Linked DNA regions of Homo sapiens: regions 2 and 3 are each linked to region 1. The links come from fine-mapping of genetic effects on gene expression. A gene starts in region 1. Each other region holds a variant in brackets. All regions are shown on one strand. Distances are from middle to middle.

What was found. PIP is the estimated chance that this variant, and not a neighbour inherited with it, causes the effect. A credible set is the group of variants that fine-mapping cannot tell apart.
Region 2: its variant is the best candidate, but not a certain one, in a credible set for the expression of HMCN2 in gastroesophageal junction (GTEx, PIP 0.72).
Region 3: its variant is the best candidate, but not a certain one, in a credible set for the expression of HMCN2 in cerebellum (GTEx, PIP 0.66).

The regions. Positions count from the first base shown.
Region 1 is chr9:130,263,826-130,268,030 of GRCh38, reverse strand. HMCN2 (hemicentin 2) reads right to left here and starts at 2,271. Exons shown (of 98, transcript NM_001291815.2): 1 at 1,894-2,271. The coding sequence starts at 2,152. It overlaps LOC124902285 (a long non-coding RNA gene), which reads left to right and starts at 1,142. Exons shown (of 2, transcript XR_007061817.1): 1 at 1,142-1,615.
Region 2 is chr9:130,292,306-130,296,510 of GRCh38, reverse strand. It overlaps HMCN2 (hemicentin 2), which reads right to left. Exons shown (of 98, transcript NM_001291815.2): 5 at 1,485-1,656; 6 at 739-845. Among named protein-coding and RNA genes, the nearest start is that of HMCN2, 29 kb to the right of the region's middle. The variant C/T (reference allele first, on the strand shown) is at 2,595.
Region 3 is chr9:130,297,867-130,302,071 of GRCh38, reverse strand. It overlaps HMCN2 (hemicentin 2), which reads right to left. Exons shown (of 98, transcript NM_001291815.2): 8 at 2,784-3,047. Among named protein-coding and RNA genes, the nearest start is that of HMCN2, 34 kb to the right of the region's middle. RefSeq lists an enhancer at 1-694. The variant A/T (reference allele first, on the strand shown) is at 2,450.

The sequences.
Region 1 (4,205 bases):
AAGTCTCATCAGTGTCCTGAGCCTCAGTTTTTCCAACTGTAAGATAAAGGGGTAGATTCAACGATCTCTAAGCTCCTTCAGTGTGATGTCTTCGGAAGCCCCAGAACAATTCAGAAAGTGGGTGAGAGAGCTGGGGAGACGGAGGGTGACCTGTGTTCCAGCTTAAGTGCCAGAACACACTTCACAGCCCACCTCCTCACAACCCCCAGCTTGGTTGCCCCCTGACTCCAAGATAGAAGCTGTCCATCTGATGTTCCTAGAAATCTTTGTCTAGAGCCTTGGCTTCTGAGCTTTGAGCTGCAAAACCCTGTGGTGCCCAGAACTCCTGGAAGCAGAGGGGCCTCCAAGCCCCTAGACCACAAACTCAGCCTGAAGCCTACGTAGAACTATGTCTTCCCACTGTTTTGTCCATTTTCTAAGAACCTGTAATGGTATTGTGATTAATAAATGCAAATCCCTCTGCAAGGACTTGCTGGCTCATACAGCCAATGGCCACCGTCTATTTCTTCAGCACAAGAACACTCTGCAGTACAATTTAGCAAGGAATCTGTGCGTGTGTGTGTGTGTGTGTGTGTGTGTGTGTGTGTGTGTGTGTTTTATTTGGGGGGGTTGTTTGTTTGTTTGTTTGTTGCTTTATAAAGCTATCCTTGACAGAGGGGTGAATGATAGAGAGATGTGATAAAGCAAAATATGACTCAGAGGCTCTCGGTGGGCATAGGCGGTTCCATGTATGTTTCTCCCCATTTTACTGTAAGTTTGAAATTTTCCATTAAAAAACGCTGGGGAGGCTGGGTGCAGTGGCTCATGCTTGTAATTTCAGCACTTTGGGAGGCCTAAGTGGGAGGATCACTGAGGCCAGGAGTTTGAGACTAGCCTGGGCAATACAGAGAGACTCCATGTCTATAAAAAATTTAAAAATCAGCCAGGCATGGTGGCGTATGCTTGTAGTCCCAGCTACTTGGGAGGCTGAAGCAGGAGGGTCACCTGAGCCCAGGAGTTCGAGGCTGCAGCGAGCTGTGATCACGCCACTGCACTCCAGCCTGGGTGACAGAGCCAGACCTTGTCTCAAAAAAAAAAAGAAGTGTGGAAAGCAGTCCTGCTCCTCGCCGCTGGGAACCTGCAGCTCACTCAGCAACCGCTGTCCCTGGGACTCTCTACAGTGGAGCGCCCAGGGACCCTTTCAAGGGCGCCCCTAACACTGAGCTGCAAGGCAGGGGGTTAAAGGGGAAGCAGAGGTGCAGCGTGCAGGGAAGAAGGAGTTAGGGCGGAACTCAGCTGTGAGAACACAGCAGGTGGAGGCCACGGGGCCAGCACACGAGAGGCGCTGCCCTTTCCCCAGGGAAGACAGGCGAGGGGACAAGACCAGCAAGGGTGAGTCCGCTCCCCACTGCAGGGTCCGTGGTGGACCCCATTTCGTCTCAAGGCCTGCCTCTGGGAGCCATTCCGGTCTCCAAGCCTCCGCTGGGAGCGAATTCTAAGAATTGGCCAAAGGAAAAGCCCTGCAAAGGCTCGTAGCGTCCCAAGTCCTCGAGAGGAATGCCTCATTTCAACATCTCAGCAAGTCTGGGAGGCCATCCTCACCATTTCATAGGTGGGGCCGGTAAGGCGCGGGAAGGTGAGGTCACTTGCTGAAGTCTCACAACGGCGCGGGAGAGCAGGGAGAGCAGGTTCCTTGAGCGAGGGAATGTTCCAGGGGGGTGGGAGGGAAGGGACAGCTGCAAGGACTGCCCAGGTGGCCAGGGTACCCGCAGCGCGGATATGCCGAGAAGGCGCGCCCGCCAAGCCGCGGCGCAGCCCACGACGTCCAGGTGCGTTCGGGGCCAACTGAGGGGGTCAGGCAGGTGAGAGCACCTCGAAGGGGGCGCCCGGCGGGCGGGGGTGCGGGGGCGCTACCTGGGTCGTGGAAGGGCACCAGCGCGTAGTTGGCGATGGCCTGGCTGCGGCGGCTCAGACTGCGTTCCAGAATGCGCGAGGCGCCATCGATCACCTGCATCAGTTCGTCCCACATGGAGCCGGTGACGTCGAAGACGAAGGCCAGGGTGGCGTCCCCCGTGGTGGGGGGCATTACCGTCCCGGGCGCCCCGGCCACTGCCACTGCCACTGCCGCAGAGACCGCGGTCAGCAGCCGCAGGAGCGGCGCCCCGGGCATCATGCCGAGCGCGGCTCTGGCTGCGGGTGCTGCGGTGGAGGCGCAGGTCGGAGCTAGCCGGCCGCCCCGGTGCACACGGCGGCTGCAGGCAGTGCCTTGCTCCGTCGGGCCGCGGCCAGTGCGCGAGGGATAGGGGCGCGCGGCGGGTCCGCCTGCTGGGCGCCCGAGGCGGGTCCTAGAGCCCACCCCGTTCAGGGTCACGGCCCGCCTCCTCCCCTCCCCCAATCGTGACTCAAACTTTCCCAGCCCCACTGTTCGCCCGTCCAGATCCGAGGTTAGGGGAGGACGCGGGGCGGAAGGCAGAAAGGAGCTGGGGCCCCGGCCAGGGCAGCGAGGGATGGGGACGCGCAGGATGCAGTGGACACCTGCGCCTCCCGCCGATGGCGCGCCGGGGGCGGGAGAGAGGGAGGGGGAGGCGCAACGGCCCCAGTCTCCCTCCAGCCCCAACTCCCCCCACCCCTGCCTGGCCAAAGCGGACCCTGGCTTCTGCAGCTCCCTCCACCCAGTGCTGCGACAAATCCCCCCACCCCCGCCCCCCAACACACACACAAACTTTGCCATTCGTTTTCCTTCTGCCAGGTGGGCTCTGTGCTTCCCGGTTATTGCAAGCACTACTGCTATTATAATCAACAAGAAGTCTTGTTGTTAACCATGTTCTAAGCATTTTCAGTTATTTGCTTGAAGACTGGCTGCAACCCTAGAATGAAATACTAACCCTAAGCCCATTTTACAGAGGAGCAAACTGAGGCTCAGAGAGGTGAAGGCATTTGCTCCAGGTCACTCAATTATCAAACAATGAAGACAAGATCAGAGGCCAGATCTAGAAAGACTCCAAAGGCCCAGGGCTCTGCTGCCTCCCTTGTGTTAAAAGACATTGTCACACGGTCACCTGGTGACTCCAGAGGATGAGGGCTATCCTCCTGCCCATCCACCTCCCCAGCCCCATGGGCTGCATGTGTGGATGCTGCATCCCACGTGAGGTGCTGCCTGGGACTGGGTTCAGCCTCCTGCTCCGGGCAGATCCAGATGGGCTCAGGCACGGCTGCTTATCTCAGGCTGTGCTCTCGGGACCTGTTTCCAGGCCTCTCTCCCCGCTGGCCTATAAGCCCCTTGAGGGCACGGCTAGGCCTTGGTCTACACTGGATGAGCCCCTAGTTCCCAGCCCATATCCAAGCACATGGTGGGGAGGCACTAATGTTGTCTGAATAAATAAACCGCAGCTTTTGTGGAAATGCCGGGTTTTGAGTCATGTGCGAGAAGGTAGCTAATCCCCTCAATCCCTCCTCCGAGAACACCATGCTCCCAGAGACATGGCTGAGGGCTCTAGGTCTGTGAGTGATGGGGGGCGCTTTCTTGAGCCCCTGTCCCTGCAGAGTCGTCAGCCAGGAAGCCACCCCTCCGCCACGCTCTTCCTTTCCTCTTCGGTCTCAGCTCAGACCCCACCTCTGAGGCTGCTTCTGAACCCTTGCCCTGCAACCCACATTTCTCTGAGCCCTGTCCTGGCTCTGACCACACCGTACAGCCCATGTCATGTCTGGGGCCCTGCCTCTCCCACTCTGGCTGTGAGTTCTATGGCAGAGATCCTGTGCCCGGCACATGCTAGGTGCCCAAGGAAGGTGTGCCACCTGAATGGGGCAGCAGGCATCAGAGAAGCTTGGCAGCTGGGCATTGGCCACAGCGGGAGGTAGCACACATCCGCAGGGACTCTGTTCTAGCCCAGAGCTGGGGTCCGAGGGAAATGGTCTCCCACGGAGCTACCAGTCTCGTGGAATATAGTGCCACCAGGTGCCCAGACCCAGCAAGGGAGTGGAACTTGCAGCCAAGTTCACAGGAAGTTGAGTCACCTGCACTTCTTAATGCTGGCTCTTTAAATCTCCCTGGGCTAAGTCTGTGATAACCCCCAGAGTCTGGGCAGGGCTGGGCCAGCTGTTGGAGAAAGAGGTCCCAGCTGTGGGAAGGCAAAAGCCAACAGGAGCCAGGAACCAGGCAGGACTCATAAATGGTGACATTTCAGGCACAGTGCAGGGAACATTTGGGGACAAAGGTCCTTCGGTCA
Region 2 (4,205 bases), 28 kb before region 1:
GCTCCCCAAATGAAGGAGCTGAAGCCCCAGCTTACAACCCAAACCTGAGCAGCCCTCTTGAGGCTGTGTTGCCCCTCAGCTCGCCTCAGCCCCGGCAGGCCCTGTCTGTTCCCGTGAATGTCTAACTCCCTGCCTTGCCCTCCCCATTGGCATTACAGCTCTTGGCTCAGAGGTGCTCAGAGTTTGAAAGGCAGGAGGTGGTACTGCCACTTTACCTGCAACACCTAGCACAGTGCCTGCAGAAGGTGCTCAATAAATGTTTGCCTGGTCAGCAGGAGCCCCCACTCTTCCAGGGCAGCAGCCTGCCCATCCCAGGATGCTCTGTTGGGAGCCAAACTGGCCCACAGTCCCTGGCTCCCAGCACCCTGTAGATTATAGCAGGGCCCTCCTCTTCCTGCCAGCCCTGCCCCACTGAGCCCTCCCACCAAAGTTGCTGTTGCTTCTTTTACACATTCTTCACAGCTTGGTTATGCACCTCTGAACCCTGAAGTCATTTCTCCAAGTCCTTCTTAAATGTTCCCAAAGTAACCCCAAACCACTCTATTTCTTCCTACTGGTACAAGGCAAAATGCCCTTTCTCTGTCCTTGACCCGTTACTTCTATTGATACGACCACATCACCACCCACACTCTAGCCATCAGCTTCCCGAGGCCACAGGCTCCCCAGGGCAAGTAGGAGGAAGATGGTTCCAGCCCAGTAAAGCTAGTCGACCTTTCTCCTGCAACCCAGTGCCCCTACCTTGATGGACCACAGCCCCGGATGCTCAGGCTTAAAGGCTACGACCTTGGCCGAGTCAGGGATGTTGAGAAGCACGTTGAGGCCCTCGTCCTCCTGCAGGATCCTCCCTGTGGAAGCCCCAAGGGCTGCTCAGTCCCTAACCCTTTGCTGGGGGTGGCAGGAGCCCCGCATGTCTCCAGGAATCCACAGTACACCAAACACTAGCCTCAGTCTTCCCGGAAGTGACAAGGGGTCTTGGTGGTCCTCGGCCACTGCCTCACTCCACGCTCCACCCTCAGGGATCCCCAGGGGCAGACTGTGTGCCCGGCCTCTAGACCTGGGTGCTCATGACATCCTCAGAACACCATGGGGTCAGGTGACCATGTCTGAATCACACTTCCCCTGACTCTGTTGACCTTGATGAGCACTCAGCACCTGGAACCCCAGCTTCCCATCTGTACAATATGCTACAAGTTCTCACCACCATGAGAATCCACTGGGGTACCACGGAAAAGACTTGGGGAGAGTCTCACGATGCAGGGACCGCCATTACTTTAATTCCCATCGCCGGTTGCTATGGCCCTCCTGCTTCCTCGCACACCATGGGCGCCCTCTCTCCACTTCGTGTCCCCCCCACCCCATATTTCCCTATTCCTGGAGCCTCATGTCTGAAGCCCTGTCACCCTTGGTCTCTTTCTTTGTCCCATCCTGGGCTTCCACCTCAGTCTTGGGGCCAAAGAGGAGGCCAGCCCCGGGGTGGTCCATACCCAGCGGATCTTGGACTTCAATCTCAGGCCCTGGCCCACTCAATGAGATGGTGACCTCCTTCAGGCTGGGGTCAAAGGGGAGTCTCCATGTGTGCTCCCCCTCCTCCTCGTGGTCTGTGGACAGCAGGTGCACCTTGGAGGCCTGGATCGCTGACTCCACCCACTTCAGCACCTGGAGGCAAGTATGAGGAGCTGATGCCGGCAGGTGCCCACAATGTCTTCCCCCTCCCATGGATTTTAGGCAGCATACAAACTTTCCAGGTCGCCCAAGGCCACCCCACTCCTCCATGTCCAACACCAGGCCCAATTCACACATTGTGACCCTCCTGGCTTCCATAGGCTCCAAGCTGTGAAGCCTGAATTGAGGCATTCGGAGGACTCAGCACAGAGGGAAGGAGCAAGGGTGTGTCCCTCTACTGGGAAGACTCTTCCACACTTCTCCACCTGGCCTCCTTCCACAGCACCCACACTTCCTCCAGGAAGCCCTCTTGGTGCCTCTTACACACAATGAACCCTGGAGATCTGGAAACTCCCCCAGACCCATGTAGTTCATGACTGATTATCCCAGGGGCCTCCAACTGTGCTCCCACCAGGGCGCCACGTTCCCTAAGCAGGACTGAGAGGCACTGCTGCAAAGACTTCAGGTCTCTTTCCAGTCCACAGAAGTAAGGAATTGCTGGATGGATTTTTGCAATATTGAGAAGACCTAAATCCTTGGTTTCTATAATTGATTATTCATTCTAAAGTCTTACATCTTTTGGACAAGTGCCACTGAGAATCAGATAAAAGGTAAGGACCCTTTGCCTGGGATATCATCCTATCCCTTAGGTACACATTTAGGGTATGACTTCGGGAGGTTCCCAAACTCCCTCAGAGATACTCCCCCTACCACAAACTGAGCACAAACTTATTTAGTTTCTCCAAATCCTGACCATGGCCTTCAAGACCCTAGGTTCTATGGTCCTAGGCACCTATGCCAACCCAAGGTCACTGTGCCACTGCCTCCCCCTGCCTGCTACACTGGACCCCACCCCTCCCGCAGGCAGCCCCCACCCATACATGCCGTGTTCTTTGCAGGAATGCCCTGCCTCCTCATCGACCATCTCCTTG[C/T]TATACTTCAGCTCGCTGCTTGAAGAGCCCTCTCTAATCCTGAAAAGGCTCTGTTCCCTGATACATACTATTTTGCAGCAATCTGCACTCCAGTCATTCACATTTATTGGATTCGGGCTTCTCATCCTTACTGGCCTGGGATCTCTGTGGGGGCAGAGAACCTCTGCTGTGCCCATGTGTGTCTCAGCCCTGAGCTCACTGCCAGGCACAGAGTGAGTGCTCAGGAGGCACCTGCTGGCTGTGTGAGTTCAGTAGGACATGCATCTCCTGGGCAGAGCTATCAGGCTGACCTCAAGTCCACCTCTCAGGCACCTCACTCCATACCCCTCCTCTCCCCAGCTCACACCTCCTCCTTTGCAATAGCCAAGTCACCTAGATTCCAGCAAGGAAACCAAGACAGAGGGAGAGGAAGGGAGCCCCTTCAAGTCTGGACCTTCTCTTTCCAGGCCAAGTTATCTCAAAGAGCGTCCATCCTGTGCAAACCCTAAAACTGAAAGACAGTGAGCTCAACCATAAAATCGGTACCACAACCACAGAGAGAAAAGAACATCTCCAAGTGAATTCCAAACCCGGCGGTTCAACTATCCTTTCTCAGTAGGAGGACAACAAGAACCGCAAAAAAAAAAAAAAAAAAAAACTTTAGTGAGTAGATTTTATTTGGAAGAACTATCAGCACTGTGATTTTGAACCCATTTTATATATCTTGTTGGATAAAGCAAATAAGTAAAGATGTCAATATTTTCAGAATCAAGATTTTTTTCTTATAAACAAATGTAAGAGACAGCTGCAAGTATCAAATCAAATGAGCTAAGTAAAAGATCTACAATGTGAAATTTGAATTGGAAATATCAGTATAAGTTCTCCAGATAGAGATAGATGATAAATTGATAGGTAGGTATATAGGCAGGTAGGTAGGTAGATAGATAGATAGATAGATAGATAGATAGATAGATAGATAGAGCAATTGATCCAGAAGCAATGATGGCCCAAAGTTTCAATAACAATGATCACCACCAGTACCTAGATCTTGGTTTCTAAATACCATTCCCCACGAGGGTTCCTTGGAGAAGTGGCTAATTCCAGGTCTGGGGCAGGCAATTTATAAGGTGAGCCTGGGATGATGGGTTATTCCATAAAACAAAGAAGTTCTCAAAGACAAATAGGGACATATCAAAAGGACATAGGAACCAGCTTGAAGGAGCTCCCACTGACTAAATTTGGGACAACTTGAGCCCAAAAGAGAATAATAACTGTGCTCAATTGAAACACATTGAATAATATAATCCATGTGCACATAATGATACTCAAAAAAGAGAAAGCAAAATTCAAAACAGTAAAGCCTCCCTTGCCACAACTGAAGTGACTCCTTAATCGAAGAGAAAGAACTAAGTGTGATTCCGTGCCTTTTCGACAGAAATTGTACTTCAGAGAAACCAAATTATCCGTCACTTTTGATGCATAAAAGTTCTTCTTCTTGGAAGAATGCCCACTCATAAATGTGGGAGGAATGATGCAGTTAGGAAATCATCATTTTGCAACCCCTAATGAAATATCATTTCAGGCAAGAGTCCTCAGTGGATGCTAAAACTGTTAGATGAAAAGTTGATGGGA
Region 3 (4,205 bases), 34 kb before region 1:
AGACTTCATCTCAAAAAAAAAAGCACAGCTAGAGGATGGGTATAAATGCAAAATTCACACACATTTTTGAGATAAAACCAGAGACTTCAGTAAAATCTCATAGCTTGTAATGAGCCCCATGGGACCCCTCCCTGGCCCGAGCCTGGTCTTGGAGTGACACAGTCTCTTCCCTTGGCTATTGGAATTACTTCAATGGAGAAGTCTGAGAAACTGCCCCGCTGGGTCAGCCATGGCCCATCAGAGCTGGGTGCCCCCTGGCAAGGGCTCAACCTTTGTGTCACCGTCTCCCCATCCCCGCCAGCAGAGGAGCCCAGCAGAGATGCTCCGGGAATGAGACAATGCACTAGACCTCCTCGGAGCCCAGGCTGGGGATGGGAAGGCGGCGGTGACATCATGCTCCAGGCTCCCTGCCACATCTGTCCCGGGGGGGGAGGGGTGTCTGACCATCCAGCCACGTCCTCGGCTGTGTGCAAAGCAGTCGCCACTCACCCACGCACCCTGGGAGCCTCTGCCAAGCCAGTTTGGGCTCCCCATTTCCATGAGCTAAATGGGACCACAGGCCCACCCTCATCTCTCCAAACCCAGAGCCACCTGCTACAAGGCGAAATTCCAGCCTCCCAGACCTGGAGGGCGGGGAAGGAAGCAAAAATCCAAACCAAATCCCTTCCCCAACTTTAATCTAGAGCTGAGATAGAGAACAAAAGCCAGAGCTAAACTCCAAACTCTTGGATCCATCTGAAAGAACAGGGGAAAGAAAATAGAGGCTGTTATTCCCTCTGCTGAAATTCCTTCCTGAAAGTTCCTCCTCAAGGCTGCAAAGGCCAAGGGAAGAGAGGCCCCGGAACCACAGTAGGGGAGTGGAAGCTGGGAGGCTGGAAAGAAGAGGTCTCCAGCTCTCCTGCCCAGCCCTGCCTTGCCCCACCCAGGTCCTCAAAGTCCTCCACCAACCATGGGCACTGTAGGCACGATGGGCACCGTGGCCAGCCTCAAGAGCTGGCCCTTCTTCCCCTCCCTGCATCCTTATTTGAAGTGGACAGAGGAGGATGCCTCTCACTGAGATCCCCCACAAAGAAGTACTAGAATGTTAATGACATCCACCTTTGTAAGCTCCCCTCGGGCCACCTCCAGGGGAGGGAGACAGTGGGCAGGAGAAAGGCAATGAAGCCAGCAAGGAAGCCAGATGGCCAGTGGCCCTAGACATCCCTGTTAGGACCAGGGGCAGACCTGAAAGGCCAAAGATCCACCCTTCTCCCTGGGAGCTTCCAGCCTGAACGGTGAGACCTCAGGGACACACAGGAAACCAGCAAAAAGCCACACATACGGGAACCAACAGACCATGGCCAAAGATTGGAGGACAAAGTGACCTGTTCCTGCAATGATGTAACGGTAACAGCAGCTGCCACACTGGAGGGCCCTTGCCCACAAATGGATACATTCTGAGTGCAGCCTCTGAGGACCCAAATGCTGTCTTGTTGTGTGCATTAGCTTGGGCACCCCCACGGCAGCCCTGTGAGCTGGGTGGGCTCAGTTTCCTTATCTATGAAGTGGGGACACATCTCTGAAAAGCTGTAAGCATCAGTGAGCTAGCACATGGCAGGAGCTTGGCCCAGGACTGCCCCATGGAAAGTGTCCAAATGGTGACTCGGATGATTGTGATTATGACAGTGATTGTGATTATGGAAGAGCAAAAGTCCATGTCTGCCCTGCCCACTGCTGTGTCTACAGTGCCTAGCACCATGACTGGTACATAGTAGATACTCAAAATGAATGCTGAGTAGATGGATGTGTGGGTGGACAGGTGGGTGGACGAATGGGTGGATAGATGGATAAATAGATGGATAGATAGGTGAATTAATAGTGAATGGGTGGGTAGATGGATGGGTGAGTGGATGAATGAATGGATAGATGGATGGGTGGGTGGATGCATGAATGGGTGAGTGGATGGATGCATGAATGGGTAGATGGATGGGTAAGCAAATGGGTGAGTGGATGGGTGAGTGGATAGATGGGTAGGTGGGTGGATGCATGAATGGGTGAGTGGATGGATGCATGAATGGGTAAGTGGATGGATGCATGAATGGGTAGATGGGTGGGTGAGTGAGCGGGTGGGTGGATGGATGAATAGGTGAGTCAATGGATGCATGATTGGGTGGGTGGATGAGTGCATGAATGGGTGGGTAGATGGATGGGTGAGTGAATGGGTGGGTGGATGGGTGAGTGAATGGGTGGGTGGATGGATGAATAGGTGAGTCAATGCATGCATGAATGGATGGGTGGATGAGTGGATGAATGGGTGGGTAGATGGATAGGTGAGTGAATGGGTGGGTGGATGGGTGGGTGGATGGGTGAGTGAATGGGTGGGTGGATGGATGAATAGGTGAGTCAATGGATGCATGAATGGGTGGGTGGATGAGTGGATGAATGAGTGGGTAGATGGATGGGTGAGTGG[A/T]TGGGTGGGTGCATGAGTGGATGAATGGGTGGGTGGATGGGTGGGTGAGTGAATGGGTCAGTGCATGAATGAATGGGTGGATGGATGGATGAATGGGTAGATGGATGAATGGATAGTTGACTTGATGACTTTGTTCTAAATCCTTGAGCTGAGAGCCACATCTGAGCATCTTAGTATTTAACATAATGCCTTATAGGGAATAGCTGTCCATAGAAGCTTAATGAACAAACACTTTCTAATCTAATTTAATCTAATCCAGTCAGGGAAGGCTCCAGGATGAAATGGGACTCTGAATGAGCCAGGGGCCTGGGAGACAAAAGAGCCAACCACTCACCTGGGGCCACCCCACTGTAGGACACTCCAGAGACACGAAGGAGGGGGTTTCCCTCATGGTCCTTGCCCTTCACCTTGAGGTAGAAGCGCTCCTTGGGGGTGTGGAAGGGCGGCCCGCCCCACAGCTGATGGGTGGAGCCATTGGAGAGGGGCTTCGTGGGCAGAGTCAGGAGGGGCTTCCCTGAGCTTTGTGCCAGCTCCACCGAGTCTAGGCGGCCGGGTGCCTTCAGGCCCGTGGAATTGATCACCAGGGAGATGGGGACTCCTGCAGAGGGAAGGTGAAGAACAAAGTGCTGGCGTCAGTGTCTGCCTCTGTGATCCCCCTCAAGTAGGGGCCCTCGAACCACACCCCAGGGGTCCTGCTTGCCTGGCCCTTCCTACCTGGTCCCTCCTTCCCTACCTACCCTGGTGCTGACCAACGCTGGGGGTGGGATAGGTAGATAGGGACCTTGCTACTGTCCGTGGTGCTGAAACACCACAGTCGTCCAACCACGGCTTCCCAATGGCTGCATCCCCTCTGACTGCACTGAGTTGGAGTCCCATGGAGTAGAACTGTCCCCCACCCCATTAACTCTGGTGTGGGCCATAATCAGACAGGCTTCAGGGAATGGCCTCAGATAAAGCAAACACCAAGTTTGGGGACTCCAACTTCTGACCAGACTCTCCCCGTGTTCAGGTTTTCTTTGGTTTTCTTTACTGTCTTGATGGAAATGTGGTACTTTTCACACTATCCCAGAAGAGGTAGAACTGGACTCCAATTTCATAATGTCTTTTTAAATTTTCTGTCATCCAGGCTGGAGTGCAGTAGTGCAATCACAGCTCACTGCAGCCTCAAACTCTTGGGCTCAAGCAATACTCCCACCTCAGCCTCCCGAGTAGCTGAGACTACAGGTATGCACCACTATACCTGGCTAATTTTTTAAATTTTGTAGAGATGGGGTCTTGCTGTGTTGTCCAGGCTGGTCTTGAACTCCTGGCCTCAAGCAATCCTCCTACCTTGGCCTCCCAAATGTTTCTCTTTAAAAAAAATTATCTTGGCCTGGCATGGTGGCTCATGACTGTAATCCCAGCACTTTGGGAGGCTGAGGCAGGCAGATCACCTGAGGTCAGGAGTTCAAGACCAAACTGGCCAACATGGCAAAACCCTGTCTCTACTAAAAATACAAAAATTAGCCAGGTGTGTAGCGCGCACCTATAATCCCAGCTGCTCGGGAGGCTGAAGCAAGAGAATTGCTTGAATCCAGGAGGCAGAGGTTAGAGTGAGCAGAGATCGCACCACTGCACTCCAGCTTGGGTGACAGAGTGAGACTCCATCTCAAAAAAAAATTATCTTGGATATACATCTTTATCAAGAGCAGAAACCCAACAGGGTCGCATGTGGCCTCCTGCACCCACTTCCACTGGGGACAGGCCAGTTTTCAGT